Regions from separate parts of the Homo sapiens genome. Here regions 1, 3, 4 and 5 are each linked to region 2. The links come from fine-mapping of genetic effects on gene expression. A gene starts in region 2. Each other region holds a variant in brackets. All regions are shown on one strand. Distances are from middle to middle. Region 1 overlaps HERC1 (HECT and RLD domain containing E3 ubiquitin protein ligase family member 1). Region 2 holds the start of USP3 (ubiquitin specific peptidase 3). Region 3 holds the start of LINC02568 (long intergenic non-protein coding RNA 2568). Region 4 overlaps DAPK2 (death associated protein kinase 2). Region 5 has its middle 54 kb from the start of USP3.

The links. PIP is the estimated chance that this variant, and not a neighbour inherited with it, causes the effect. A credible set is the group of variants that fine-mapping cannot tell apart.
Region 1: its variant is the best candidate, but not a certain one, in a credible set for the expression of USP3 in transverse colon (GTEx, PIP 0.63).
Region 3: its variant is the best candidate, but not a certain one, in a credible set for the expression of USP3 in breast (GTEx, PIP 0.89).
Region 4: its variant is the best candidate, but not a certain one, in a credible set for the expression of USP3 in sigmoid colon (GTEx, PIP 0.61).
Region 5: its variant is the best candidate, but not a certain one, in a credible set for the expression of USP3 in monocytes after R848 (Quach 2016, PIP 0.76).

What each region holds. Positions count from the first base shown.
Region 1 is chr15:63,645,757-63,652,070 of GRCh38, forward strand. HERC1 (HECT and RLD domain containing E3 ubiquitin protein ligase family member 1) reads right to left here. Exons shown (of 78, transcript NM_003922.4): 53 at 5,497-5,624; 54 at 3,969-4,169; 55 at 2,313-2,443. Among named protein-coding and RNA genes, the nearest start is that of USP3-AS1, 48 kb to the left of the region's middle. The variant G/A (reference allele first, on the strand shown) is at 3,451.
Region 2 is chr15:63,501,872-63,508,185 of GRCh38, forward strand. It overlaps USP3 (ubiquitin specific peptidase 3), which reads left to right and starts at 2,722. Exons shown (of 15, transcript NM_006537.4): 1 at 2,722-2,959. The coding sequence starts at 2,869. RefSeq lists enhancers at 1,002-1,795, 1,274-1,323, 1,796-2,588 and silencers at 2,314-2,653, 3,004-3,113, 3,184-3,383, 3,454-3,533.
Region 3 is chr15:63,388,184-63,394,497 of GRCh38, forward strand. It overlaps LINC02568 (long intergenic non-protein coding RNA 2568), which reads left to right and starts at 2,047. Exons shown (of 7, transcript NR_120375.1): 1 at 2,047-2,078. The variant A/G (reference allele first, on the strand shown) is at 2,723.
Region 4 is chr15:63,974,736-63,981,049 of GRCh38, forward strand. The region is part of intron 3 of DAPK2 (death associated protein kinase 2); the gene reads right to left. Among named protein-coding and RNA genes, the nearest start is that of DAPK2, 69 kb to the right of the region's middle. The variant C/A (reference allele first, on the strand shown) is at 3,020.
Region 5 is chr15:63,447,566-63,453,879 of GRCh38, forward strand. No RefSeq gene overlaps it. Among named protein-coding and RNA genes, the nearest start is that of USP3, 54 kb to the right of the region's middle. The variant C/G (reference allele first, on the strand shown) is at 2,567.

The DNA of each region.
Region 1 (6,314 bases), 140 kb after region 2:
ACTTATATTTCTTAGCATCTATATTTCTATAACTCATTTATTTTGAAATCAATATTTTATGCAAATCAGATACTGCCATATCATTCCCAATCACTAGACCAACTTACCCTTTAATGTAGTCTGTGTTATATATATTTGCTGCAGTTAAAGCTCAACAAATGTTAGCAGGATAAATGAATTATGAAATTCTGACTCAAAAGGGATATGTTATCTCTCATTAGCATTTGTATTTATTAAGAGTTATCCTTATTGACTAATAATCATTACAGTATAAAAAAGAAGAGACTTAAAAAAATGCACCCCTTACATCCCAATAGCAAACACTAATGAGAATCTGGGATATGTTTTGTGTTTATATGGCTGTGATCATTGTGCTCTTCTGATTTTATTTTTATTTTTCAATCCTCTTCCACATCTTCTAACTCCTGGTTTCATGCATTTACGCTACTTGCCTAGATGGTCCTGTAAATATCTGAACTGGCAACCTCTGTTTAAGGTAAAAAAATCATTCTTCATGAACGGAATTTCTGACATTACTGGGAGCATTTGAACAGGAGGTATTACCAGGGTGTTCATAATTCACTGTTTTAGCTTTACTCTTTCATGGCTTATTTATTTTTACATAGACTTATCCATGTATATCCATGGTCCAAAGATTCTGTGCAACAACAGAACATTAAGTCATAAGTGACTGATGTAAAAAAATTTTAAAAGAAACTAGTATCAAGCAATAGTAGAGGCTAAAAAAAAAAAAAACCAAGAAGGCTGGGCACCGTGGCTCACGCCCGTAATCCAAACACTTTGGGAGGCCGAGGTGGGCGGATCATGAAGTCAGGAATTCGAGACCAGCCTGGCCAGCATGGTGAAACCCCGTCTCTAGTAAAAATACAAAAAAAAAAAAATTAGCCGGGAGTGGTGGCGGGCGCCTGTAATCCCAGCTACTCAGGAGGCTGAGGCAGGAAAATTGCTTGAACCCGGGAAGCAGAGGTTGCAGTGAGCTGAGATCGTGCCACTGTACTCCAGGCTGGGTGACAGAGCATGACTCCATCTCAGGAAAAAACAAACAAACAAACAAAAACAAAAACAAAACAAAACAAGAAAAAGCAACTATCTGGTAAAGATGCTTTTACCAGAATATATACAAATAGCCAACAGGCATATGAAAAAATGCTCAACATCACTAATCATCAGAGAAAAGCAAATTCAAACCACAATGAGCCATGCACGTTGGCTCACGCCTGTAATCCCAGCACTTTGGGAGGCTGAGGCAGGTGGATCACTTGAGGTCAGGAGTTCGAGACCAGCCTGACCAACATGGTGAAACCCTGTCTCTACTAAAAATATAAAAATTAGCCAGTTTGGTGGTGGGTGCCTGTAATCCCAGCTACTCAGGAGACTGAGGCAGAAGAATTGCTTGAACCTGGGGGTTGGAAATTGCAGTGAGCCAAGATCGCGCCACTGCACTCCAGCCTGGGCGAAAAAGCTAGACTCTGTCTAAAAAAATAAAAATTTACATTAAAAGAAAAAAAAAAACACAATGAGATATCATCTCACCCCAGTCAGGATGGTTATTATTAAAAAGACAAAAAACAACAGATGTCGGCAAGAAAGTGGTGAAAAGGGAACTCTTAAACACTGTTGGTTTGAATGTAAATTAGTACAAACTCTATAGAAAACAGTATGGGGATTTCTCAATGAACAAAAACCAGAACTACCATTTGATCCAGCAATCCCACTACTGAGTATCTACCCAAAGGAAAATAATTCATTTTCTCAAAAAGATGCCTGCACTCATACATTTATCACAACACCATTCACAATAGCAAAGATATGGAATCAACCTAAGTGTCCATCAATGGATGACTGGATAACGAAAACATGGTATATATAAACAATGGAATACTATGCAGCCATAAAAAGAATGAAATCAGGTATTTTAAGCAACATGGTTGGAACTGAAGCCCATTATCTTAAGTGAAATAAGTCAGACACAGAAAGGCAAATATTACATTTTTTTCACTTTTAAGTGGTTATTATTAAAAAGACAAAAAACAACAGATGTTGGCAAGAAAGTGGTGAAAAGGGAACTCACGTGTACACACGGGCCTAGAGTGTGGAATGATAGACAAGGGAGACTTGGAAGGTGAGGGCTGGGAGGAGGATGGATTATGAGAGATTACTTGATGGGTACAATGTATGTCATTTGGGTGATGGATATCTTAAAATCTCTGACTTCTCCACTGTGTAATCTATGCATGTAACAAAATTATATTTGTATCCCATAAAATTACGTTTTTTAAAGATGCATTTACCTTATGTGCATCAATTAGAACAATGCCTCCTTTCTCAAGTGGTTCCTTTGTTCCCAGTAACAGTTTTCCATCAAAATATCCCACTGCAAATGGTCTGTCTTCACTGAACCATGCAATGCAAGTAACAGACACTAACATGATCAAAACAAAAGAGTAAGGAAAAGATAATTATTTGTCATTGTCTGACTTAAAAGACAGAGACTTTGAAACAAATAATGATAATGCAACCATTGCAAGTAAATTTCCAAATAGCTCTTTAATGCATTTAGACAAAATGTAGGCGTACAGTGGGGATTCCATGTAACATACTTTTTAAAAGTGTCGCTTATCTGTGACAAGGGCTACCTACTTTATAATCTTTCATTCTTTTTCAGGTGGTTGTTGAAAAATAGAGACAAAAATTAAATTCCTTTGCTGATTGTAAGTCACCATAGGTTCTTTCCTTTTGGACCAAAATCTACCATGAAACTGAGAAGTGAAAGAACCCAAGTCATAGAAAGAAAATTACATCTCTTTTTTTGCTTATTTAATATTCCCTATTCAGTATGTTTCCATATTCTATCAAAATGTTCTGTTCTCACAATCTATATTTCTACTTGTTTCTTCAAGTATATGTAACACTGAAAGACTACAAAAGAAGTAAAAACAGTATCTGTGAGGGTAGAATGGGAGTGTGGGAACTGAGTAGACAGGAGAAAGACTTTTCACTGTATGCTTTTTAAAACTTGAATTTTTGAACCCTATGAAAGTATTACCTATTCTTAAACAAACAAAACAAACCTCTTCTGTTAATGGAATACCATGTAAGCAGGCACTATGACTTTGAATTACCCCACTTCCCCCAGACAACCAACAAAATCTTGTGAGATGCATTCACGTTCAAAGGAACACCACAGTAAGAAGAAAGCAGACTTCCTAATCTCTCTTGTCAGACCAGGAATTCCCTGCTTCCCCTTCCTCCATTACTTCAATTTTACTCATTTTTTAAAAGACAATTTCATCTCGGCCAGGCACGGTGGCTCACGCCTGTAATCCCAGGACTTTGGGAGGCCAAGGTGGGCGGATCACAAGGTGAGGAGATCGAGACCATCCTGGCCAACATGGTGAAACCCTGTCTCTACTAAAAATACAAAAATTA[G/A]CTGGGCGTGGTGGCGAGTGCCTGTAATCCCAGCTACTTGGGAGGCTGAGGCAGGAGAATAGCTTGAACCAGGGAGTCAGAGGTTGCAGTGAGCCGAGATCGCGCCACTGCACTTCAGCCTGGTGACAGAGCGAGACTCCTTCTCAAAACAAAACAAAACAAAACACACACAAAAAAAACAATTTCATCTCTACCAATGATTATGACCTTTTTTTCTCTTGGACAGTCCTAACTTTCAAAGGAGACTTGGAATCTGCTATAAATATTAAGCCACACAAAAGATGAATTACTAATGTTATAATACTATTAAATCTCATTTTGACAGAGATGTGTGGTGGGGGCTAGGAGATAAATATCTTTCAATTCAGTAACTAATTAAAATTAAAACATGACTGGAAAATTTTGAAAACAAAGCCAAGATAATATTCACTTGGTATTTTTAAAAGCAAATGCCAAAAAGCTAAGTCTAGAAAGGAAGTTGGAGACTCCGTCAGCTAGACGTAAGTGCAGTCATTTACCATCCTTTCGATAGCAATGCTCCAATTCTCGACGGTGCATGGTGGACACATCAACAACTTCAATCAGTCCCAGAGATCCATCCATCCGTCCCACCAACAACAATTCTGGAGACTCTCCTGACCAGGCTGTAGCCGGACCCTCTTCTGGCCAAGCCAGGGCAGATACCCAATGAGGCTGAATATCTACTAATCCTTTTCCTCCTAAAAGGGAAAAAATGTTAACTAGTTTTTACTTAATTCTTAAAAAGAAAAAAAGGAACAGAAACAAATACTACTTAATTCTAATACACACTCAAAGCAGTTCCAAATTTCATAATAGCCTACTAATGAATAAGACCATGAAGGCAGGATCCTTCATTTATAATACTATATATGATCATAAAATTAAAGTTTTTCAGCCGGGCACAGTGGCTCATGCCTGTAATCCTAGCACTTTGGGAGGCCAAGACGGGCGGATCACCTGAGGTCAGGAATTCGAGACCAGCCTAGTCAACATGGTGAAACCTCTTCTCTACTAAAACTACACAAAAAATTGGCCAGGCATGGTGGCACGCGCCTGTAGTCCCAGCTACCTGGGAGATGGAGGCTGCAGTGAGCCGAGATCACGCCACTGCACTCCAGCCTGAATGACAGAGCAAGACTCCGTCTCAAAATAAATAAATAAATAAATAAAATTAATGTTTTTCTGTAACCTTTTTTTTTTTTTTGAAAGAGGGTCTTGCTGTGTTGCCCAGGTTGGAGTGAGTACAATGGCATGATCATGGCTCACTGAAGCCTCAAACTCCCAGGCCCAAGCAATCCTTGAGCCTCAGCTTCCTGAGTCCCTGAGGTTCCAGGCATATGTCACCACGCCTGGCTGTCTGTAACTATTAATAGGGCAAAATGGTAGCGTTATAGAAGAGAGTGTAAAGAAAAACACTGAATGTACAAATGTACAAATGTCAAGCACTTAAGTCCTTTCTCAACAATTACTGATAACCAAATTGGCATAAGAAACTTACTTGCAGTTAAGGCTAGCTATTCCTCAAATGTCACACAGAAGTTATTCCTCAAATATGTGACACAGAACACCTATTCCTCAAATATGTAAAAACAAATGAAAATACTAATAAGCTCGATATTACAATAATTATTTTTACTTTCCAGAGAGGTATAATAAAAACTGACAAGAATTTATACCTGCAAAATAAACATAATAGAAATATTTCAAGCAATTCAAAAGAATACATAGCTTAAAATTCAGTGACAACTACATCTCCCCAAACCCTACTCTGAATACTTAGTGGTACAAGAAAAAAAATTTAAGTTTATAACTACTAGGTTAGTTGAAAGTCCCAGAAAGAAAAGTGAATAAATGAGCACTTCCTCTCTAATTTGAAGCACACAGTGCATAGATTGAAATTTCAGAGTTGTTGGAAGGCTTGTGAATTTCAAGGTGAAGAGAAACCACTGTTTGGACTCAGAAGACTAAGAAGAAGGCTTTAAAAAACTACTTTCAGCAGTTTACTAGTGTTTACATGACTCTTACCATTAACTTGCCAGATATTCACCATCTTTTCCAAAGCGCCTGCTAGATATTTGCCACTGATACTCCAGGAAACTGGTGAGAAACTTGGATCACTGGGTGATCCCAGGCTTTCCTCAGCATCCCCTTCCCTAGAATATAACAGACAGATATGCAGTTCTAATCCCCATCATTCAAAAGTAAATTAAATCCCAAACCTTAAAATAAGGGTTTCATATAGACTAGAGTGTATAACTGATTCTTCTGTTTCAAAACCTTGGCTAGCAGTATTTAACAGTTACACACTCATTAATGTTTGTCATCATGTGAAAAATGAATTATAAAAGAGTGATATTAGACTTTTCCTCATTTAATGTAGTACACAACTTGTCAATAAAGACATTCAAATTCTGTATGTGTTGTACAGATGGTTATTATTCAGAAGACATTGATTCTTATTTGCCTAAACTCTTGGGAATACTTCAGAAAAGAAATAGCTACAGCTGGCTATAAAACTATTAAAAATGCGGCTGGGCGTAGTGGCTCACATCTGTAATCCCAGCATTTGGGAGGCTGGGGCAGGCAGATCAGAAGGTCAGGAGTTTGAGACCAGCCTGGCCAACATAGTGAAACCCTGTCTCTACTAATAATACAAAAATTAGCCGGGCATGGTGGCAGGCACCTGTAGTCCCAGCTTCTTGGGAAGAGAAGGCAGCAGAATCACTTGAACCCAGGAGGCAGAGGTTGTGGTGAGCTGAGATTGCACCACTGCACTCTAGCCTAGGCAGCAGAGCGAGACTCAGTCTCAAAAAAGAAAAAAACAAAACAAAACAAAAAAAACT
Region 2 (6,314 bases):
AGAGCTTGCCCTCTGGGGACTATCACAATCGGGACTAAATTAGGGCCCCTGCTCCCAAGGGTTTTTATTCTAGCTGGGGAGAGAAGTCACTAATGGAAACTTTTTTTTCCCTTAAAATAGCTTACACCTTACAAAGCACTTTCACATTCCTGATTCCGTTAAAATCATAAAGCTAGAACTGAAAGGAAATTTAGAGATCATCTCTAGGGGTCAAATATTGGCAAATATTGGGCCACCTGCTAGGCTCTTGCCCATGGTAGACATGGCTAACATACCGCACACTCACCCGTTCATGTCATGTATTCACTTACTTATCAGACATCCTCCATGTTCTACATTGCATGTTAGAAATAAAGCAGAAAACCAGACAGACTTGTTTGCTACCTTATGGACAAACAAGAGGAAGAGAGACATTAAACAAATAATTACACGCATGAAGAGTGTTTTTAGGCCGGGCGCGGTGACTCATGCCCGTAATCCTAGCACTTTGGGAGGCCTAGGCGGGAGGATCTCTTGAGCCCAGGATTTCGAGACCAGCCTGGGCAATATAGGAGACACTGTTTTTTTTTTTGTTTTGTTTTTTGTTTTAAGTGTTTTTAAAAGCCGGTGTTGGGGCAGACAAGGACATCACACACTGGGAGGTACCCTGCGGGTGGGAAAGGGTCGGGAAAGACTCCCTCAGGAAGTGATGTTTAAACTGAAGTCTAGGGGATTAGGAAACGGAGTCTCTGAGAGGGTGAAGAAATATTACATACCAGTATGAAGCATGGCCTGAGTGAGGTCATGCTCCAGGGCCGAACAAGGGGTTATGGATGCTAAGTGGGGGTGGGTGTCCGGAGGAAACAGAAGGTTGGTGGAGCAAGGCCTTAAAGACAAATAGGTTGACATGGAGAGATGGGTGGAAGAACTTGAGCCAAGGGCAGATATTATTGTTTCTCCTCCTCCCGCTTCCCAGGGAAGCAGCTCTCATCTAGTGTCAGTAAAAACAAATACAAAGTTATAATTTATTGGCCACCTAGTATGTGGTGGCAATTTTCATGAATTCTCACATGTTCCTTGCGAGACAAGTATTCTTCTTCCAGTTTTACAGATCTAGAAAAGGCTTGGAACGGCTAGAGACGCTTGCTAAGCCTGGCCGTCAAGTAGGCAGCAGAGCTAAGATTTGAAAGCATGCCGGCCTGCCTTCCTAGGCAGACGCACTTTCCACAACGCATCACTGCCATAAAAATCCCAGGCCGAGGCTTGCTCTAACAGCAAATACCACTTGGAAAAGGACAGATCTTTGAGGACCCAGAAATACTTCTGGGGAAAGGATGAGCAGAGGTGCCCCCGGTGGGTGGATACCATTAGGCAGAGGTCTATGCGGAAGAGGCCGACTTGTGGCGTGGGAGGTAGGGAGGAGTAAGAAGTGATTGACGGGGCGTCCCTGGCTGCTCTAGGACTGCATTGCGGGGAGGTGCCCGGCTCTAACCACTGCCCGGCCCGGTTAATCATTTCCTGACCTTCCTTCCTCCTCTCGCTCTGGCCGCAGGATTGCCACATCAGTCTTCCCCCTCCTCCTGCTCGCCTTCTGGCCCCGAGGCTCCTTCGCCGGGTTTTACAAGGAGCCCCAACTTGGAAGCAATATTTGTAATAGCCCCGGACGTCCTCAAGTGCCCCAGTGAGATCGCAGGCTCGATCCAGGGTATGCCGGCCCAAGCGGCCCCTTGAGGCTTGCCCTCTTCTCTAATCCCTCACTAAAAAGAGGTCAGAGGGTCAGGGATCCAATCTCCATACAGATCAACAAGTTACAGACTCGGTTTCCCCCTGCGGTAAAAAGGGGATGGTAACAGCTGGTAGGGTGTTGCGAGGCTTAAATGCGGTATGGGAAGTGCCTGGCTGGGAGACCTTAGGTATCTAACAAATGCTAGATCCCTTCCCTTCTTATCGCCTGGTAATGGGGAGTTTAGCTTGCCCAGCAATCCCAGGCTACGTTTATCTCACTTGAACTTCCTGGCTTGAAAGTCCTACGATGTGCTGGAGGTAACGCAGATGGTGAGTCACAGTGACAGGATTTGAACGTGGGTTCATGGGCGCCCCTGCGGGCCCACCCACGCAGCATCTAGGTGGCTGGCTAACGCCACGTGTTCAGAACCTAGAAAGGGCTACGGATCGCACCTGCCGCAAGGAGCCTAACGCTAAGTCGGGCGGGACTGCCCTGGCACCCATGAAACCCGCTGCCCGCCTCCCCCGGGGCCAGGCCCTTGGCCTCCCCAGCTTGTTTCTTCGTGTATAAAATGAGGGCCACGGTGCCTGTCTGCCCGAGAGGTTTTAAAGTTCTTCTTTACACTTTGCGGAGCGGCCGGATTTTTACCACGAAGCCACCGAGTAGTCCGCACCACATAGGTTCAGTATCCTCCGCCCACCGCAGGAAACGCCGCGGACGGCCCGGGGTGCCCTGCTCGGCGCCCCACCCTTCCCGGGGCCGGGGAAGCGGCGTGACTAGGAAAGTCACTTCGGAACACAGCCGGACTCTGCGCCACCAGCTGGAGCTCGCCGGGACCCCACCCCGCGGGCTGGGCGGGGGCGGACCCGGGGGCGGGGCGGGGAGGGGCCGGCCTGGAAAGGCGGAAGCCTCCAGTCTAGGGGTGGCTGCAGAACCCGGATCTCGGAGTTACACGTTCTACGGAGCGGGGCGCCGGGAGACGGCGGGCGAGAAAACCCGGCGTCCGGAAGCCCGTGCTTTCTTTGACGCAAGGGCTCGAGACGCAGCCGCCGTCGGCCGAGCGCCCGGCTAGAAGCGACACCAGACGGAGCCTCCGGAGTTCCTCCGCCCCCACCTCGCCGGGTCCTGGAGCCGCAGTCCTCCCAGCTGCCCTCCTCGTGGCCATGGAGTGTCCACACCTGAGCTCCAGCGTCTGCATTGCTCCGGACTCAGCCAAGTTCCCCAACGGCTCCCCGTCGTCCTGGTGCTGCAGCGGTGAGTGCGGCCACGGGCCGGCCCCGCAGCGCACCCGAGGCCGCGGCTCTGCCGGGCCTGCCGTCTAGGGGCCGCAGGCGGCCGGCGCGCGGACTCGGGGAGGGGCGAGGGCGAGCCGGGCCCGGCGGGCTGGGGAGGGTACGCGATGAGGCGGGCGCGTGCGGGAGCGGCGGCGGCTCCTTTGTTTCCCGAGGCCCGACGGCCGGGCCAGCGAAGGAGAGGGCCGCGAGGGGCGGGAGTCCGCGGAGGCCTCGAGCGCGTGGGGGCAGCGGCAGGCGGGGACCCTGGCCAGCTGCGTGCGCCCTTGCCCCGCCCTGCCGTGGCCGGGGGCTGTGCCCGTCCGTGTTGCGGGGTCGCCTGTGGGGCGGGTGTCCGGCCCCCGAGGGGCGGCCGCACGTGTGGCGGGGCCCGCGCCGCGCTTCTCCGCAGACAGGGCGGGAAGAGCGCCGCTCTCCGGGCGCAGCTTTGTCTGGGCTGCGGGGCGCGCGGGGCTCCTCTCCTCCGCCGAACCCGGCCCGGGTTTCCTTTCCCTTCTCCGCAGGCTCGGGCACCTCGAAACCCCGAGAGGCGCTGGGAGCTCGGGCGGCGGAGGTCGGGGTCTTTCATCCGTCAGGGATGGTGAAGTTTGAAAACAGGCTGCGGGCTGAGAAGCTCGGAGGCTGAGCCAACAGCTGCTTTGGAGGGGACTGCTCGAGTTTGTTTTTCAGACCTTTTGGGTTGTCCGAAAATGCGTTGGGATTCCCAGTTCCTGTGTTGTGAAACACTTATTAGATTTATATAAGGCTTTTGAGTAGCTTAAGCGTTTTAACTCCTGCTGGCCCCCTTGGAAGCCCCAGTGCCCTCTCATTGTCTGCTCTAAGCGACTTCTTAGGATCGCACCGGCCACACGGCTTTGCTTACTTCCTGGTAGGGCCCTGGTGCCACCGCTAGTCTTTGTTTATTAGCTTTGAGATGGTCACTGGTATCTTGGGTTATATTAATAGCGTACAATTCGAATTGTGCACTTCAGAAATCTGAAGTTCATTTGAAGAAATATAGAAAAACGGCAATGGTATGATTTAGCTGTGACATGTCTCATTGTGGGCCGGAGCTGGGAAGATAGTTTAGAGAATGCCTTAGCACTTTTGACAGCTTACTACTTAAATAGTGATTATGTTCTTGGAAACAACATCGGTAGGTCCACAAAGAAAAATGTACTCTGGGATAAGGAATAGAAATAACTGCGGTTTCCTGGCGCGCTCAGACGTCTGATGCTTTGCTTGCCTTTGTAAAGTCAGGTATCTTTTTCTGCATGAAGCCTTTGAAAATTAACGGTTAATTGGTTTCACAGAGCAGTATTGCAGTTCTTTTGTGAGGATGCAGAAACTTGTGTAAATTAGCTTTTACCTGTAAATCTGTCGGGATGTTGAGTATAGAACAACAAATAAGGTGTATGGCACTGCTTTACAAATTGGTTGGTGGTGGTACATTAGCTATAACTGTAGCCATTGCTGTGGTGCTATAATTGTAACTTAATTTTTTTCCCAAAAGAAATTTGAAGAAAAAAAAAAAGACCAAAGTAAACACTAGGAGAAGCCTACCTCACAGGGAATGGTGGGATTGCTCTTGCTCATCTGTAGTAAACTACAGAAAGACAACATGGACAATTAGCACACTTCTGGCATTTTTTAGGTAAAATCACATCAAACTTAAAAATGGCTTCACTGGGCACATACATCTAAAAAATGGAAAAGAACTGTGCAAGTGGCAGATGCCCTCTTGTGAGTCAGTCTTGCCTCTGTCAGTCAGGGAGTCCACTTGACTGTGAAAAAGAGATGCAGGAAATTGAGCATCTCTTGAGGAACTTAATAAGTTAAAATGGAGCATAACGAGATGTGCTGATAACAAGAATAAACTAGTATGTGGGGTGATTTCTGTTCAAGGGGTAGGATGACATCTTTGCATCTTGCAACAAAGTGTGTCTGACATATAGCTTTGCAAGCCTGGGTCTAGTCACTTACTTGGATTTGTAGAACCAATAAAGCGAGTTTCGCAACTTTGTGTGAGTCCACACTCTGAATTGAACCCATTTTATGTAGGCCTCCCGTCTTAACCCGTTGGCATCCATTTGTTGATATAATCTAGCGTTATTGTATTAAGCTTGATCTTGTTCTTGCGTGCCTGTCGTTTCAGTGATTAAATGATGAATCTGTGAGTCCTTAACTAACTCATTATCTTGGAGTGTTATATAGTCGTATTTTTTTTCTCCCACACTCTTGATTTTATTTTATTTTTGTTTTTTTCATAGGGGACCAAAAGGGTAGCCGATGTGTTGACTAATACTGTGACTGGGTATTGAATCTGATTATGTTCTTATTAAGGAGGGGAAAATCCCTGTTTTGGCACTGGGACAATAAAAGTAATGCCCTTGCCTTATTTTCTTTGCGAGTTTGCAATTATACCACGGTAAGACAGCCAAGCAAATTGCAAAATGCCACAACATTCTAGGTTCTACCAGTTAGCAGTACCTAATTGGACAAATAGTTCTATTTTCTTTGAGTATCAGTTTCCTTATATAATCTGCAAAGAAAAGGGTAATACTTTGCATTTACTTCACAGGTTGCTGTTAGGATGAACAAGGTAATTTTTTGTGAAAACTTTGAGAAACTTGTATACACTGTTCTAGTAATAGGTGGTATTAGAGGTCAGAACATCTTTGTAAAGAGGACTCTGAATAATTAAATATCCAAAGCCCATTAAATGGGGACTAGAACAGACTGGCTTTATGCTGAATGATGCTTTACAGGGAGATACAGAACTCAACAAGATTACAAGAAGTAAGAAGTAATTATACTTCAGAATTAGCATGAGCTTCTTATCCATGGAAGGCACTGTGTGTTGGGTTATATAATTGTGTATGACAGTGGTTCTTACACTTTTTGATCTTAGGACCCCTTTACACTCTTAAAAATTGTTGAGCACCTGAAGAGCCTTCGTGTAGCTTATATCTGTTGATGATGTTTATTAGAAATTAAAACTGAGAAAAACTTAAAATATGTATTTATTAATATGCTTACAAATAATAATAGACCCACACCCATAACATAAATTGACAGTTTATGTAAAATGTTTTTCAAAACAAAAATTTAGTGGGAAGAATGGCATTATTTTGCCTTTTTGTAACTCTTTGTTCAGCTTTATAGAAGACAGCTGGATTCTTACATTGCTTCTGCATTCAGTCTCTTGAGATGTCACATCATGCAGCCTCAGGAACACCCCACTGCATGCTTGTGAGAGAATGACTGTAAACAAAAGTAACATCTTAAATATTATGTATGAAAATTGTTTTGACCTTCTGGATCCCCTGAATGGGTCC
Region 3 (6,314 bases), 110 kb before region 2:
TTTGATCTCAGCTTTGGTTTACTAATCTAAGAAAATAAAAACTGGATTCCAACAAGGGATTGTAAATTCTCACTGCATACCTGACACCAGTTACCATGATGACTCTTGTCTGGTTACTTGATCCCTGAGTCCTTCAGCTCCTACTTCTGTTGAGTGGGGAATAACAGCTCTTCACTGAGACTTTTATAAAGCACTCTGTGTGATTAATTTAAACATCATAATAATTCAAATTTCTATGCATGGGGAAACTTAGCATTTTACGTGAAGTAAACCTTGGTGCAATAGTGTCACCTCTTTCCAGGTGCATTATTCACAATGTCATGGTTAGCTGACACTCAGACATTTAGGAGATATAGTTAGACTGTAATAGCTTAAGGTTTCTCACAGCCTTCTCATTTTTCACACCTGCTGGGGAACCCACTCTCCTCTAGCCTCAGGGATTTGGTCCATATCCTTCCTGTTCTTCTTGTTCTCAGTCTGAAGCACTGTCCTCTCCTACCCGTCTTCTAAACCATAGTGTATTCACAGGCCACATTCCAGCAAGCTCACAAGTGCCAGCCTGACGTGAGTAGTGCTAATATCAAATCTGACAACTTCCGTTCGGAGTCAGGCAGGCAGAATGGTATAGGGGGCAGAGCTTTGGCATCATACGAACCTGGGTTTTGAAACTCCACCATTCACCACCCTGTGTGACTCTGGGCCAGTCATTCAACCTCTTTGAATCTTGATTTCTTCCTGGTTAAAGGGATGAGAGTCCAGCCAGGCACGGTGGCTCATGCCTGTAATCCCAGCACTTTGGGAAGCTGAGGCGGGCGGATCACCTGAGGTCAGGAGTTCGAGACCAGCATGGCCAACATGGTGAAACCCCATCTCTACTAAAAATGCAAAAATTAGCCAGGCGTGGTGGCGCATGCCTGTAATCCCAGCTACTCAGAAAGTTGAGATGGGAGAATTGCTTAAACCCGGGAGGTGTAGGCTGCAGTGAGCTGAGATCACACCATTGCACTCCAAGCTGGGCAACAAGAGTGAAACTCCATCTCAAAAAAAAAAAAAGAAGAAGAGAAAGAGAAAAATAGAGATGAGGGTCCTAGAGTAAGTATACCCCAAAGGGAGAAAGGGAGGAATACATTTAATCAGCTAGGCATATGAAGAACTTAGCACGGCGGCACATAATGAGTACTATGTCAATGATCTTTGTCCTCTGTGGAAACATCCTTACTGGATGAAGTGGGGCTGCTTCTCCCAAAGTTCCAACCCTGGTTTGGGCAACTCCATCAACTTCCATGAACCCTCAGGGAAGAACGAGTAGAGATTTCCAGATATCCCTTTCCCCCACACATTGGCCTCTCATAGAATGTAACTTTGGTCATAACAAACCCAGTCTTATTACTGAAATAAGTTGAAGCCTTCTAAACAAGTAGGCTTAGAACCTCTTTTCCACAGGAAATGCCTGATCACTGGAATTTTGTAGCTAGAAGGTATTCCTGAGCTCAGAGATGCCACATACTATTAAAATTATTGGTAATTTCCTCTTGCTTGGGCACTCAAGCTCTCTACCATTGCAGGAATTCATGAGCTGACTCCTTTATTTCAGGTGCTTCCAAACAAAACTGACAAGCAACACCCAGTTGCCTACATTTTAGTTTGCATTCATCTCCACTGGGTGTAGGGTACTAGGAGCATGCAGCACAATTGTGCTTCTCTTCCAGCTGGAGTCTGTAGACTGAGCCAGGCCACCTTGTTTAGGCTCTAGTGCCTGACAAAGAGCTCAGTGGGCTGGAAGCCTAGTGCAGTTAACACTGATGGCTTTGTAGCTTGGACAGGTGAAAGTCAGCAAGCTTCCCAGTAGACCAATTGATCTGAGTTGCCTCTCTGGCCAGAAGCCAGCCCTGGCAGGGATCCAACTTCCTCTCAAGCACTGAGAAAGGGCTCAGGTGTATCTGGTGGCCGGCAGAGCAGGTAGTCAGCCAAGGCTTCATAGTTCTCACCCACGGCAATTCAGCTAGCAAACTAGAGACACTTCCCCAAGAAGACACAGCGTGGCAAGACTGCTGAGACGCATAAAGAAATCTTAGCTGGTGAGTTACTTCTTTATGCCTGCCCCACTTGAAATAAGAGTTTGGGGCTCCTTTTACTGTGATTAAAACTGGATTATTTATGCTAGCATCTCTGTTTTTTGACACAGCTATGCAAAACTTTTTGATCTTACATGTCTCTGTTTTCTTTACTGTCCAGGATTTTGTGGAAAGTAGAAATGATAGCAAGATATAGTTGGAGTTCTTAAAGAATGTTCAAAGAATCAGAAAGTTCAAACCCCAGAAACTTGGCTTCTCTTTAGAAATTCTGTTTCCCCTGAGGACAGTGGAGAAGGAAAAATACCTCCATAACTCCATTTTTATGATAGGGATTATGCCACTTAATCCCAGTGAATATTTGTAAAATTATTTTGAGACGTTTAGGAACGACATCATAGTCCATAATTACAAAGTGTATTGGTGCTTGTAACTGTAGAGATGTTTGTTTTTAGTGGGGGAATCAGACCTGTCTGTGATAAGAAGGCTCCCTGGGTTCATATCACCCCTGAGATATTCCAGTTCGTAGGAAAGAAGTCAATTCAGAGGCAGTGAATGAGAGAAGTCCCATCATAATAGGTCTTATATAACTAGCCGTCAGCAGAAGGGAACTGCTAAAAACTGGGGGAAAGGGCACAGAAAAGTTATGG[A/G]AGGAGCAGTGCTAACTTGCTGCAATTGTCCCAACAAGAAGGAAGGTGCAGGGAAATGAAAGATAACTCTGTGGCCTCTTCCAGGGCGATGAGCAGCATAGTGCTTTTGTGAAGATTCCACCCAGAGTCTGATGCTGGGCAAAGCATGTCTGGCCAAGACTGGAAACAGAACTTTTTTTTTTTTTTTTTTGAGTCTGAGTCTGGCTCTGTCACCCAGGCTGGAGTGTAGTGGCACGATCTCAGCTCACTGCAACCTCTGCCTCCCAGGTTCAACTGATTCTCATGCCTCAGCCTCCCAAGTAGCTAGGATTACAGGTGCTTGCCATCACGCCCAGCTAATTTTTGTATTTTTAGTAGAGATGGGGATTTTGCCATGTTGGCCTGGCTGGCCTCAAATTCTAGCCTCGAACTCCTGGCCCCCAGCGATCCACCTGCCTCGGCCTCCCAAAGTGTTGGGATTACAGGCATGAGCCACTGCACTCAGCCTGGAAACATAACTTTAAACATTGAACTGAAACAGGGAAACATCTCAGCCAAGTGATTTTTATAAAGAGTTATTAACAGGGAACTTTTAAAAGAAAAAAAAAAGTGATAATCCAACCTACCAGATAATGACTCTTCATTCTTACATGTTCCCTTCTTCTTGTCCATGTCAGCAAAGAAATATACCTGGTTACTATGGAGAAAAGATACCCTATTGTATATACTACTTTTTTAAAAACTAACATTGGATTATAAACACTTTCCAACATTTCTACATAGTCTTAATTATTTTAACATTGATAAAATCTTAAGACAAGTTCCAAGAAGTCATGAAGCCCGGAAAGATTAGTGATCTAAAACAGGGAGTCAAATTTCTTAAGTGACTTCCTCTAGAAGTTCAGGGAACTCCTAGAAGAGCAGCAAAGCTCCAACTTGAAGGATCCAGATACATATGACAATAGGTAGACTGTTGGTAAGTCAGTGGCTTGATGGCTTAACGGGGACAATAACAGGAGGCGAGTATACCCACAGGGCCAGACATGCTGGGGAAGGGAGCCCACTAGAATGGGTCCAAGCCCATAGCCAAGAGCAGAAGCTGCCATAGCGGCGGTCAAGGAGGCTTCATTCTAGATCCACATGCTGAACAGTGCTTCATCAGCAGACTCTCTGAAGAAGCTTCTGCACCTTGGAGCTCCCAAAAGAGATCAAAAGCCATGATCAAGACCAAGGGAAAGGTGGGGGAGTTGTGGGAGCTGGACACAAAGGACATTTAACTCCTTGTCCCACTTCCAGCAGCTGCCAACCATCCTCCTCCCACTCACTCCTGGCTCTCTTTTGCTCTCTTCTCTTTTTTTTTTTTTTAAGACAGGATCTCACTCTGTTACCCAGGGTAGAGTGCAGTGGCATGATCATACCTCACCGCAGCCTTGATCTCCTGAGCTCAAGAGATCTCCTACCTCAGCCTCTGAAAGTGCTGGGATTACAGGTATAAGCCACTGTGCCCAGCCTTCTCAATTTTATTTACTTCTGTCCCTTTAACTTACTCCATCCCTCAGACTGAAGAGTCAATGGGCTGTGATCTTTAGTTCCAAACTCTACATGCTGTCCTGGGGGATCTAAGGCAGAGGTCAGAGGAGGAATGAACTCAGATATCACGGAGGGATAGGCGAGAGCATTAGGAAGTTAGCAATGAAGAGAGTGTTCTGGGGAACAAGGTGACATTTTTACTTGTTCCACTTCTTTATTGTTTGGAGTTTTTTAAATGGCAGATATGTTGCAAACTAAAACAATCACATAAAATTTTTTTTTAATTGAAGGAGGTAAATGTTTTGTTTTCTAAGAGAAAGAAAAGAAACTGTCGATAGTGCCAATAAAAGCAGCAGAGAGATCACTCAGCGCATGTGCAAAGACAAGGTCTTGGATAACAAGTTCTGCAAACCACAGAGTGCACAGAATCTAGAAGCCAGGAAGAAGAACGCTGAGACGCGAGAAACTGTGACTGAATGATATGAGAAGGGCCATTTAAAGACTTTTACAGAGAGGACAAGGAGAGAGAGCAAGAAGAGAAGGAGCTCCTAAGATTTGAGAAACTTGAGGCAAATAAACAGAATAAGGGCTAGGTGCGGTGGCTTATACCAGCACTTTGGGAGGCCGAGGTGGGCAAATCACTTGAGGTCAGGAGTTTGAGACCAGCCTGGCCAACGTGGTGAAACCCCGTCTCTACTAAAAATACAAAAATCAGCCAGGTGTGGTGGTATACACCTGTAGTCCCAGCTACTTGGGAGGCTGAGGCAGGAGAATCACTTGAATCTGGAAGGAAGAGGTTGCAGTGAGCCGAGATCGCGCCACTGCACTCCAGCCTGGGTGACAGAGCGAGACTCCATCTCAAAATATAATAATAAACATAAACAAAATAAGGACAGCAGCCATTTCTGAAGCCAGGAGGAAATGTTCCAGATGGAGGGGAGCGGGCAAAAAAGAGAGACAAGAGCAGTGAGGAGAGAGCCATTAGGCGGCACTGCAGAGAAAACTGTTTGGAGTTTTGAAAATTTTTTATTGTGGAAAACTTCCCAACCCATATAAAAGTGGAGAATACATACTCAGGAGGTGGAGCAGGAGGATTGCTTGAGCCCAGGAGTTTGAATCCAGCCTGGGCAGCAGAGGGGGACCCCATCTCTTTAAAAAAAAAAAAAAAAGGAGACAGTATGGTCATAATGAATCCCTATATACCCATCATCCCTTCCCCAGATTATTTTGAAACAAATTCAAGACATCACATTATTGTGGTGGCTCTCAAACTTCAGCATGCATTTGAATCCCCTGAAGGGCTTGTCAAAACATGGATTGCTGGGCTCCACCCACTGAGTTTCTGATTCAGCAGGTCTGGCCTGAGAATCTGCATTCTAACAAGTTCCTGGGTAATACTGATGCTGCTGATCTGAGGGCCTTGCTCTGAGAACCCTTGTAGTTAGTATTTCACCTATAGATATTTCTCTTTAAAAAGGACTGCCTTATTTAGACATAATCATGATGTTATCAGCACACATAAAAATCAATAATAATTCCTTAATATCATGTTTCCCAATTATCCTCTAAGTGTTTTTGTTAACCATTTGTTTGAACTGGGATCCAAACAAGGTCTATGGATTGCAATTGGTTAATATGTTTCTTTAGACTCTTTTCCTCTATAGGTAGAGTTTGAATGGGCAGCATGAGAGACAGTTTGAGCAATAGTTGAGAGAGATATGCAGATGTGTGTTGTGAAAAGACTATAGGCCGGGCACGGTGGTTCTCACCTGTAATTCCAGCACTTTGGAAGACCGAGGCGAGCAGATCACCTGAGGTCAGGAGTTTGAGACCAGCCTGGCCAACGTGGGGAAACCCCATCTCTACTAAAAAATACAAAAAATAGCCAGGCATGGTGGTGGGTGCCTGTAATCCCAGCTACTCAGGAGGCTGAGACAGGAGAATACTCAGAGGCTTGAACCCAGGAGGCGGAGGTTGCAGTGAGCTGAGATTGTGCCACTGCACTCCAGCCTGGGCAACACAGCAAGACTCCATCTCAAAAAAAAAAAAAAAAAAGCACAAACTTTGGTTTTGATCCCACCTC
Region 4 (6,314 bases), 470 kb after region 2:
ATATAGATTTTTCCCACAAGAGTCAGCTTTGCAGGGCCATTTCAAAATATGTCAAAAGATTTATTAGGGTAAAATACTTCTATTTCTTTCAGGGCCTGCTATTTGTCATGTGATGTTATAGTAGAGTCAGGTTGGAATTTATTATCTTATTGCTGCAAAGAGTCTGTTTTGTTAGGCTTAAGTTCACTGTTTTCATATTAATGCTGGTCACTTGTGCCCGAATTTAAATGGGCAGAGAGTATAATGAGGCATGTCCAACCCCTCTTCCCACCATGGCCTGAAAGTTTTTCAGGTTTACTTTGGAATCTCCTTGGCTGAGAGAGGGGTCTATTCAGTTGGTTGAGGGGGCTTAGAATTTAATTTTTGGTTTACAATCCTCTGACAGAAGCTGGGGTATCCAGCCAGCATGTGCTCCACTGGGGCTGAAATAAAGCCATGGGCCCAAAGGGAAAGATCTCAGGAAGGGTTCTAGGCCAAGGGATCCAGGACCTTGGGATCACTTGGAGAACTTGTTTTAAAATGCAGATTTCCAGATCCCACCATAGACTTTAACAAATTAGATTCTCCAGCAGTGAGGCCTTAAAACCTGTATTTTTACTCTAACAACATAATAATAGCAATTAATATTCATTGAACACATACTCTATGTTACATGCCTTATGCACATTATCTCATTTAATCATCACAATATCCTATGATCTAAGGACTAACATTTTTCTATTTCACACTTTAAGAAACAAAGGCTCAGAGAGGTTAAGCAACTTGCCCACAGTCCCATAGCTAGTAAATAGAGTCAGGATTCAAACCCAAGCAGAACAGCTCTCAACCACTACAGCATACTGAGTATTGCAGATGATTCTTTTCTTTTCTTTTTTTTTTTTGAGACAGAGTCTCATTCTGTTGCCCAGGCTGGAGTGCAGTGATGCGATCTCAGCTCACTGCAACCTCCGCCTCCCAGGTTCAACTGATTCTCAGGCCTCAGCCTCCTGAGTAGCTGAGGTTACAGGCACATGCCGCTACGCCCAGCTAATTTTTGTATTTTTAGTAGAAATGGGGTTTCACCATATTGGCCAAGCTGGGACTCCTGACCTCAAGCAATCCGTCCACCTCAGCCTCCCAAAGTGTTGGGATTACAGGTGTGAGCCATTGCGCTCGGCTCCAGATGATTCTTATATGGCTAAAATGGCTCCAACCCAACTTTGGGGATCATTCCCTGCCCCCTAGTCCATCCTAAATAAAGAACATCAAAATCTTCTTTTCTCCTTTCTTTAAACATTTCCAGAAGCACACCTGGACCCACTCAATAATCTTAGCATCATGAAAAGTAGAACAACCGGACATAAAATAGTGACATAGAAAGTACACAGCAACACCTATGATATGCTGTGACTTACAAAATGGAACCTAAATCCGCTTAAGCCTCTTGTTCAGCACTATCAACAGAACTTTCTGCAATGATGAAAATGTTCTAGATATGTGCTGTCCAATAGAGTAGCCACTAGTCACATGTGGTTACTGAGCACTTGCAATGTGGCTAGTGTAATAGAGGAATTGAATTTTAACTTTTATTTAATTTTAATTAATTCTAATTTAAAAACTGAAGTGGTATAAAATATTTTCCATTAAATACAACTTTATTGTTTCAGTAGAATTGCATTTCACTTTAACCGTTGCATTGCTTTGCGTAAGAATTGAAATGTGGGCTGGGCACAGTGGCTCACACCTGTAATCTCAGCACTTTGGGAGGCTGAGGCAGGCAGATCACTTGAGCCCAGAAGTTCAAGACCAGCCTGGGCAACATAGTGAGACACTGTCTCTACAAAAAAAAAAAACTTAGCTGGGCATGGTGATGTGCACCTGTAGTTCCAGCTACTTAGGAGGTTGAGAGGATCACCTGAGGTCGAGGCTGTAGTGAGCCGTGATTGTGCCATTGCACCCTGGGCAACAGAGTGAGAATCGGTCTCAAAAACAAACAAACAAACAAAAAAACAGGTTGAGATGTGCTGTAAGTATAAAATTCACACTGGATTTTGAAGACTTAGTTTGAAAAATAGAATGTAAAATATCTCATTAATAATTTTAAATAAAAATATTATTAAAATCAATTCACCTATTTCTTTTTGTTTAGTCAGTGTGGCAACTAGGAAATTTAAAATTATGTATGTGGTTCACATTACATTTCTATTGGACAGCGCCAATAGGCAGGGTATCTCCTCTAGATCTAACTACTAGTTACAGGAAATACAGGGAACAGAGGAATGAGTTAAAGAACACCATGAGGAAGGAACAAGTCTAATCCAGACTGTGAAACAGGACAAGTGGCCTAGTTTTCCAACATATCAATGGCATCAAAAAAGAGGCAAAAAAAGAGAAGGGGAAGGGGGAAGGTGAAAGGGTGAAGAGAGACTGAGATAAGATGGCACATTTGAGCATATGTACCATCTGCCATAGCTGCAGCGCCCCTCTGCTCAGGGTTGAGTAGGGTGTGGCCTAAGGTGGCTGCCTTGGTGTTGGGGACCAGGCTGGTGCACTATTTTCTCAGTGTCTCATGGGTGAGGCCGTCCTTTGCCCCACTCTGACCCTTGCCCCCACCTTGGGCAGGTGCTGGAAGCTGGAGCACCCTCCCAGCTGCTGGAGTAACCCTGGGTCTGCTCTGCAGACTGGGGTCAAAGGGCCAAGATGATGGCTCCAATCCTTCAGCAGCAAAGATACAACCTTCACCTTGGGGTGGGACATGTGAGAGTTCTAGGGCTCAACTTTTCTTCTTGTGAAACAGGAGTGAAAAAAATAATGCTTTCATTACCAGCTTTGGATGTGAGGGTGGGAGTGAGAGGAATCTCTATGAGATTCTTGATAAAGTCCTTGACATAAACACCGTACATGGTGTCATCATCAGGGGTGGCAGTGGTGGAAGGGGGCTTGATTTAGAGTTTATTTGAAGTTTGCCACCGGTGCAATGTGCTTTCCCAAACATTTCCTCACTTGAGCTTGATATCCACCCGGAGGGCATCCTCATTCT[C/A]AGATGAGAAAACTGAGGTCTCAGGAGAGCAAGTGACTTGCCCAAGATCACACAGCTAGTAAGTGGCAGGACCAGGATTTAGACCCAGATTTTCTCAGCCCCAGTTCACCATGTGTCCCTCTCACCACAACCCTTCCACATTACAAAGCCTGAGGTGCTGATGCAAAATGGAAAGGCTCAAAGCAGCCCCAGGCACTGGGCAGTCCTCTGATATCCCTGCTCTGCTGCATCCACGCTCTCCTCACAGTGGGCTTCACTATCTATCTTCCTCTCTCCCCAGCTATATTATTTTTGCTTCCACAGCACCTAGTGCAAGAAAGACATTCAATCAGAAGTTTGGTGAATAAAAGAAGAAAGAAAGAAATAAAACATTAAAAATAACAACATGATGTAGAATATTCTGTATCATATAGACAGTGAAGCCTTGGTATTTGTGAAAGATCTGTCCAGAGCTCTCTGCAAATTTTCACATCTGCAGTGCCCCCTCTGAAACACACAGAACCCAGCTCCACCCTTAGTCTGCCAGCCCCTGCCAGGTTGTGTGGGCCTGTGACCTCGGGCAAATATCTAAATAAATAATAACCCTGCAATTCCTACTTTAAATAAAATGCTGCATCAGTGTAAAAGCTTCTTAGCTTAGCATTCCCAAAAGCCACTGACATGAAGTCTGGGGTTGAGGGAGGACTTTGGGGTGCAGTAATCAGTCATCTGTTTGAAGGTGAGATATGGGCAGGAGACCTGGTGAGACATGGTCTCCTTGGGATGAAGAAGGGAACAGCCACTGTGCCCCCTAGAATCTCCCCCAGAAACTCAGAAAGGTGGGAGGCTGATGACCTGCCACTGTCTAGGCCCTGGATACCCAGGCTGGGACATTCACATTAATGCTCAGTCACCTCTTTTCAAAGCCAAACCAAGGAGCCTGAGTGTCATTTCTTTACCCTCTAAGACCTCTGCCCTGGAGCCACCCCCCATCTCCTTCCAAGTTTCTTTCCTCTTACATCCCACATCTCTTTAGCTTTAAGATGAAAAACAAAGCCTCACGACCTGGCCTCATCTCTTCTCCTAGTGTTCCCAGGATCATCCCCTTCCTGCAAATCTGACCTTTGCCTCCTTCCTCCCTGCAGGGTGGCATGCCTGCTGGAAATGCTTTTCAGACTCTTCTGGAAATGTATACATGAATGACCTGCACAGGCAGCGATAGGGGAAAAATGCTGCCAGAGCTGCTGGGCCCAGGAAGCTGGGCTCAATTCAGGAACCTGGGAAGCATCACTGCCACCCTGGAGCACTCTGCCAGGCAGTTCTCTGGTATGCAACCACCACGGTATCGCTTTCCACAGGCTTGGAATCAAGGAGGCCCCAGAGCAGTCAGGGGCCTGTGATGGGAGGCCAGCCCAACCTTCACAGGGAGACTTACATTTTTCAGGGCTAGTTCCACATGTGACATGAGTTAAGCTGCTGAGATTTTGAATATATTCTATACCCCATACAGAAGTCAACTTATATGGACAATTAAATCCTTCCCAGTCCTGCCTTCAAGAGTCACGACCAGAGGCAGCTGCTTCTAGGGAGGTCACAGATGGGATAATAACAACTGAAAGGGATTTAGATCAGAGCCAGGCATGTCCTCCTAGTGCTGGCCACTTGAGCAGAAAGCAGGCGGAAGCCCTGCACCAGACAACAGTTGCTGAGAGGGGCAGTGGGATCAGCGTAGACTCATTCATAAAACCTGCAACTGGGCAGCTTTCAACTGAGTAGGTGGATACTAACACTTACTGGGCAAACCCACTAACCTATTAGGGCCCAGTGAGGACCACGAGGCCAAGACTTCTGACCAGCCTAACAGGAGTCACTAAGTCTAAGCAACAAAAGCCCATGAGGCTGGGTGCGGTGGCTCATGCCTGTAATCCTAGCACTTTGGGAGGCCAAGGCGAGTGGATCACTGGAGGCCAGGAGTTCAAGACCAGTCTGGCCAACAGAGTGAAACCCCACCTCTACTAAAAATACAAAAAAAATTAGCCAGGCATGGGGGCACATACTGGTAGTCCCAGCTACACAGGAGGCTAAGGCACAGGATCACTGGAACCCGGGAGGTAGAGATTGCAGTGAGCCGAGATCACGCCACTGCACTCCAGCCTGGGTGACAGAGCAAGACTCCATCTCAAAAAACAAACAAACAAACAAAAACAAAAGCCCAGGAACTCCTCTCCTGGGAGGTCCTCCCTCTCAGAACCTGGCCATACATGGGTTAGGGACAGTCTTGGAACGCTTGGGTCTTCTCCAATCTCATAAATTCTTAGCAGTCCATAGACAGGCACCCTGAGAACAATGAGACAGCTTGGAAGTGAAGGGGGAGACAGAAACGGGACAGAACTTAATAAGCACAGAGGCCCAAGCAAGTCATGGGAGCACCAGCGTGACAACTGATGTTACAGATGGTGCACCTGAGCTCACAAGAAGCCGGCACATAACTGGCTGACCATGAGCCCTGTTGGGAAAAACACAGACATCTCAAGAGCATTTACCTGCCACATCCCCGCCACCGACTCCTAGGGTTCTACAAACAGGAAGAAGCAGGCAATTTCCCCAGCAATTAAAGGCATGCCAATTATAGTAAGAAAGTATCAATTTATAGCTATAAAGATCAATAAATAATGAAACACGTTTCAAAACAAATGACCCAGGGCTGGCAGGGCTGCAGGCACACAGCAACACTCCTACGTTGTGGTAGTAATGGTTAACCAGCACCATCTTTGAAAAGTGAGGATATTGAGTCCCAAAAATGTCAGCCTTTGGCTTAGTCATCCCATTCCTGGGGATGTTAGCTAAATCCTCAGGACTTTGCTGAAAGAATTAATTAAAAAGAAAAGGAGAAAATCATGAGAAGAAAGTTGTTTTATCAGTAAAATTTGTAATGGTTAAAAGCTAGGAAATAAAAAGCATGTGTCCAACAATAAGGATGCTATGGTTTGACTATTTGTGCCCTACAAACTCGCATTGAAATTTAATTCCCAATGCGGCCGTATTAGGCAGTGGGACCTTTAAGACGTGATTGGGTCGGGGTGCGGTGGCTCACGCCTGTAATCCCAACGCTTTGGGAGGCCAAGGCAGGCGGATCATCTAAGGTCAGGAGTTCGAGACCAGCCTGGCCAACATGGAGAAACCCCATCTCTACTAAAAATACAAAAATTAGCTGGGTGTGGTGGTGGGTGCCTGTAATTCCAGCTACTTGGGAGGCTGAGGTAGGAGAATAGCTTGAACCCAGGAGGTGGAGATTGTAGTGAGCCAGGATCGCGTC
Region 5 (6,314 bases), 54 kb before region 2:
GTGCCTTCTTCACCACTTTGCACCAGGCCTAGGGTTGCCCCCATTAGTTACTCTTTTGGGTCATGGTCCCAAAGGGAGAGAAGAGAAGGGACAGCAGAAGTTAGCTTTGTTAGCTCACTTGACATTGGAATCACCTGAGAGCTTTAACAAATACTGATGGCTGGCCTCACCCCCTGGAGAGTCTGATAATTTGTCCCAGGTGCAGCCTGGGCATTGGAATTTTTTTTAAAGTTCCCAGATAACTCCAATGTGCATCCAAGGTTGAGAATCATTGCCCCTGTGCCCTCTCACCCCAACACTCAACCCTCACCTCTCCGTCTTCTTCTACTGCAGCCCTGGTCAGTCCAGCAAGCCCTGGGGCTGAGCAAACACAAATAACTCCACTGCGAGATAGGGATCGTGATCTCCATTTTGCAGATGAAGAAACTAAGACCCCAGAGAGTCTGTTACACAACTTTGCCCAAGGTCACACAAGTAATTAATAGCAGACTAGATCTCTCTGGCTTCAAACTGGTTCCCAGTTCATCGGGCTGCCTTGATAACTTGGGAGCATTAACTCATTAAGCTGTTAATACATCAGAGGATTTCATTTATGGTAATAATGGCCCCTTACATTTTTATGGAGCTGTTAGGGTTCACAAAGCACTTTCATATACTTTGACTTTTTTTAAGCATTATTCCTCCATTTTATTATTTTTAAAATTTATTTTAGGTTCTGGGATACATGTGCAGAACGTGCAGATTTCTTACATAAGTAAACATGTGCCATGGTGGTTTGCTGCACCTATCAACCCATCACCTAGGTATTAAGCCCCACATGCATTAGCCGTTTGTCCTGATGCTCTCCCTTCCCCCGCCCTCTTCCCCCACATATTCTTCCGTTTTAAAAATGAGGAAACTGGAGCCCAGAAACATTGTCTTCCTCATGGTCACAAGATAGAGGAACCAGAATTTGAGCTCAAATCTTCTTACTCCTCATTTCAAAGAAAGAAGTACAATGAGAAACTGGGAGCCTGGTGGGTGTAAATTTTTTGGATGTAGGGAAGATTGAAAAGTTTCAGAGCAGGGCAAGATCTCAGGTTCTCCAAAGGTGGGAACTGAAGAGACATCAACACCCAGGAGGTGCAGAGAGAGAGAGACTGTGGTCCAATGTTAACAACTGGTGAATCTCATCGAAGGGTATACAGGTGCTTGTTGTATGGTCTTTGCAACTTTTCTGTATGTTTTCAAATTTTTTAAATAAAAGGAAAAGTACGAGTAGTTTTAGAAATACCCAAATAGGGCCAGGTGTGGTGGCTCACGCCTGTAATCCCAGCACTTTGGGAGGCTGAGGTGGGTGGATCACAAGGTCAAGAGATGGAGACCATCCTGGCTAACACAGCGAAACCCCGTCTCTACTAAAAATACAAAAAAGCCAGGCGTGGTGGCACGGGCCTGTAGTCCCAGCTATTCGGGAGGCTGAGGCAAGAGAATCGCTTGAACCGGGGAGGCGGAAGTTGCAGTGAGCCAAGATTGCGCCACTACATTCCAGCCTGGGTGACACAGCGAGACTCCATCTCAAAAAAAAAAAAACAAAAAAAACCCCAAAAAAACCCAACAAATAATATTCAAGGTGAGCTGTGAAGAACCAGAGAAAATACTTTTTTTTTCTGAAACTTGGCTGTTGTTTCTAAAAGCACAAAAGTTACTGAATTGTTTGCCTATGTTACTGCAGAAGTGGGAAAATATTGTGTCAAGTAAGCACTGTACATGTCAGGAGTCACTGGGTGAGGTTTAAGTTAATCTTTTAATTGAAAATGCAAATAAAAATAGTAATTTGTGTTGACCTCGGCAATATTCTTCTATAAACATAGATTTATTCAGACTTTACAATTACTTAGTACCCTTTATAATTTAATAGAAATGAAAAAGTATATATAGCAGACTACTATATTAAAATAGCTGCACAAAGAATGTATCTCCTCTTAATTGTTCTATAAAATCCCATGGAAATTTTTGTTCTGGAATGTTGCACACCCTATAATTTTAAAAACAAGCGTTAGAAATGTAAAATGTTTAAACATACAGGCCATTGTAATACCCTTTATCATAAAGAGATAATATGCAAAAAAGTTGAAACAACACACATTTTGTTATGTTACTCTCCTACCTAAAGACTCTGAGTGCCCCTTTAAGTCAACACAAGGCCATGCCCCTTACTTGGGCAGTCATAACCCTCACAAGTGTCTGCAACCCACTTTCCAGAAGCCTCTCCCTCCTCTGCCCCCAGGCACTCTACCAGCCAGCCAGGCCAGGATTCCTGACTCTTCCCTGTCCTTCCTGCCAGGATCTTTGCAAATACTCTTCCCTGGCTGGAAGGCCCCTCCCCTCTCTGAGCAAGTGCCTGGCTTCTCCAAGTCACTGTCCAACCTCAGCCACGCACCACCCCCCACCCAAGCAGAGGTGGCCCTGCCCCTGTCCTGTTGGCAAACGTCCTTGGTGTAGCACTCGCCTCCTTGTATTTTAAGGACATGATAGTGGGATTTTCCTCATTTCCAGAATTTCCCAAGAGCCAACAGCTGGAAAC[C/G]TTTAACATTTTTAGAGCACCTCCAGCTGCGGGGTCAGCTACCCCTGTATAAACTTTCTGAAAGGCACAGCGCCATTTCTGCAGCGCCAGTACCTCATTTCTCCCCCAAAACCCCACCACTCCACCTCCAATCTCTGCAAGATGCATTGGGATGAGGTTGATGATTAACTTTGTAGAGAGTACAGCTGATATAAAGTGAGACCATTCTTTGCTATCTCCTCCGATGGGTGGGGGGAGGGCAGGGTGACTGGATTGATCCCTGCTGTGCCAAACCCCTATCGACTCCACTGGGGAATGGCACCAGGCTCAAAAGGCCGAAGAAGAGACCCAGAGGCAGTGAAAGACACGTGGGTTTTTTTGTTTGTGTGTCTGTTTTTGAGACAGAGTCTCGCTCTGTCACCCAGGCTGGAGTGCAGTGGCGCAATCTCGGCTCACTACAAGCTCCACCTCCCGGGTTCACGCCATTCTCCTGCCTCAGCCTCCCGAGTAGCTGGGACTACAGGCGCCCGCCACCACGCCCGGCTAATTTTTTGTATTTTTAGTAGAGACGGGGTTTCATTGTGTTAGCCAAGATGGTCTCGATCTCCTGACCTCGTGATCCGCCCGCCTCAGCCTCCCAAAGTATTGTGATTACAGGCGTGAGGCACCGTGCCCGGCCCCACATGGGGTTTTATTAAGGGCTTACATACAGGGGAAAGAGTCCAGTGGTGGCAGGCTGGACAGGAGAACCGCAACTGTTTGCAAAAGGCATGTAGTTTACATAGCATTTTCACTTAGTACCCTCCCCCTAACAACCTCCACCTGGCAACCTTCATTTAAGCCAGAACGAAGGGCCTCAAATTCCTGTACGCCTTCCACAGGAAGGGCCAGGGGCTCAGATGTTGCTCCTAAATAAGGAATGACTCGGGTTGGCCACTCCTGGATTCCTTAGCTCGGAACTGCATTCAGGTGCGTCTGCCATACAGTGTCATTCTCAGGTTATGCATCGCCGTCAGGTGCGTCCACCATACAGTCCCATATGTTAAAGCCAACAATGTGCGCACCAAGATAATTGCCCCAAGACAATCTTTCATAGAGCCACAGAGATTTCTGCCCTGACCAGAGCTGCGGGCATTAGAATGAGATAGAAGGGGCCAAGGCCACCACTCGAGTCCCATTCTTGAAAGGTACTATTGGGGCTTCAGACCTGGGAACACCCTTCCCCTTCATCTCTTCATTTCTGCCTTTCTCCCCTTTTTTTTTTTTTTTTTTTTTTTTTTGAGACAGTCTTGCTCTGTCACCCAGGCCGGAGTGCAGTGGCGTGGTCTCGGCTCACTGCAAGCTCCGCCTCCCGGGTTCACACCATTCTCATCCCTCAGCCTCCCGAGTAGCTGGGACTACAGGCGCCCACTACCACGCCCGGCTAATTTTTTGTTTTTTTAGTAGAGACGGGGTTTCACCGTATTAGCCAGGATGGTCTTGATCTCTTGACCTTGTGATCCACCCGCCTCGGCCTCCCAAAGTATTGGGATTACAAGCGAGAGCCACTGCGCCCGGCCTCTCCCTTCCTCTTTTCCTTTCTTTCTACCTTCCACAAATAGTACCAGGAACTATGCTAAGTAATTTAAAAAAAGAAATATTAAGTGCATACATGTCTCCTACTTGCTCCCAGTCTGCAGGGAAACAGTTATAATTTGTCTTACAATCCAAGCGCTATAATGTGGGAGAGAAAAAGCCCCAGAGGCACAGAGCCAACTCTTCCCAAGCAGTGATATTAGGGTAGGGTTGCCAGATAAAGCACATTTTGCTGAAATTGGAATTTTTATTTTAAAAGATCTCAAATACAAATTTGAATATAGCACAGAACATGTTTGTACTACAATAATTGCTCAATGCTTACCTAAAATTCAAATTTAACTGGGCATCTTGTATCTTGTTGTTGTGGTTGTTGTTAAATCTGGCAACTCTATGAGTAGAGGGATATAGAATAATTGAACTGAATGAAATTCAGTTGCTTTGACCAGTTAGGAAAGCTGCCAGGGCTGGGCGGGATGGGGAGTGAAGTGGAATAGAAGGATGGAATCGGGTTGTTGACGTGAGCTTACATAGGAAGAAATGCAATTTAATTTGATTGGGTGGAATAATATGTAGAGTGGGCCAGCAGATTTAGGAGATGGGTGCTGGACCCCTCTCCTGCTACCGGTCAACATTTATTTTATTTTGTCGTTGCTGTTGTTTTTAGACAGTCTCACTGCGTTGCCCAGGCTGTAGTGCAGTGGTGCAATCTCGGCTCACTGCAGGCTTGACTTCCTGGACTCAAGTGATTCTGCCACCTCGGCCTCCCAAGTATCTAGGACCATGGGCGCCACCATGCACAACTAAGTTTTGTACTTTTTGTAGAGACAGGGTTTGCCATGTTGCCCAGTCTGGTCCCAAACTCCTGGCCTCAAGAAATCCTCCTGTCTCGGCCTCCTAAAGTGCTGGGATTACAGGCATGAGTCACTGCGCCCGGCCTAGTCAACTCCTGCATCCTCTTAGAACAGTCACCAGGGTGAGGAAAGTGAGGTGTTGAGGCTGGGAAATATAAAGAGACACTCATGCTCAGGCCATGCCATTGTGCTCTCTTCCCAGCCCTGCAACCCTTCAACAACCCACAGCCCCATTTCATAGATCAGGAAACTGAGGCTTAGAAAGGCTTAGCAGTGTGTCCGGAGTCACTAAATTAGTTAGCAGTGGAGTCAGGATGCAGGCCCAGAAGGCCTGTGCCTGTAACTCCCTCCCTGTATAGCCTTGCTAATAGCAAGTGGTGAAGCCAAGAGATGAACCATCTCCTTTCCAGCCCATGCTTCACACACGTGACCTCATTTGTGAGGAGTGGAATTTATACATTTCAATTCAGAGTGAGCATAATCTCTGTGTGTGGGACAGAGTGGATAGAAGTAACCCGCCTGTAGAGCAGGGTAGGAGGTGGGGTCTATTGAAATTCTTGACCATGGTTCAGCAGTTTGCCACCCTGGCTATATGCTAGAATGCCTGGGAAGCTTTTCAAAATCCCAGATTTCTGGGGGTGGGGCACAGACTTCATTTTTAAACCTCCCCAGGTTGAAACCTACAATGCTGAAAGTCATACTCTTAGACTTATGAATATCCAACTTATTGAGTTAGCAGAGAGAAACTCCAACTCTGAAGAGAGTTTGTTTTCCCTCCACTCCCCCTGCAAAGGCCTGAGAGTTTTCTGGAGCCTGCATCAGCTAGGCTGTGGTGTACCATCTGACAGGAAGGCTGGAGACCTGCAGCCTTCCTGCTTTCCTGTAAACAGCAGGGGAAAGAAGATAGCAAGATGGGTGTTTGGATCCCAAACATGCTTGTTTTAGTGTAGGCAAGACTGTGACATTTTAAAATTCTGAATTGTGGGGTGGGGGCCAAGGAGAGGAAGGGAAGAAATATTACTAGCTCTATTATCTTGCATATCTGAGGATACCCTTTGCTAGGGGTCCTCTCTCTTGCCTATTTTTTTTTTTTAGAGATGGGGTCTCACTACGTTGCCCAGGCTGGTGTCAAACTCCTAGCCTCAAGGATCCTCCTGCCTTAGCCTCTCAAAACATTGGGATTACAGGCATGATCCACCACGCCCAGTCTCTCTTGCCTCTATCCCCAAAGTTGCCTTATTTATATACCCACGACTAGGGTAAGATCTGAAGTTGCACAGAATCCTGTGACATGTCATGATAAGGGGGGTGGGCCCAGGTCTCAGGTACAGGGAGGTGTG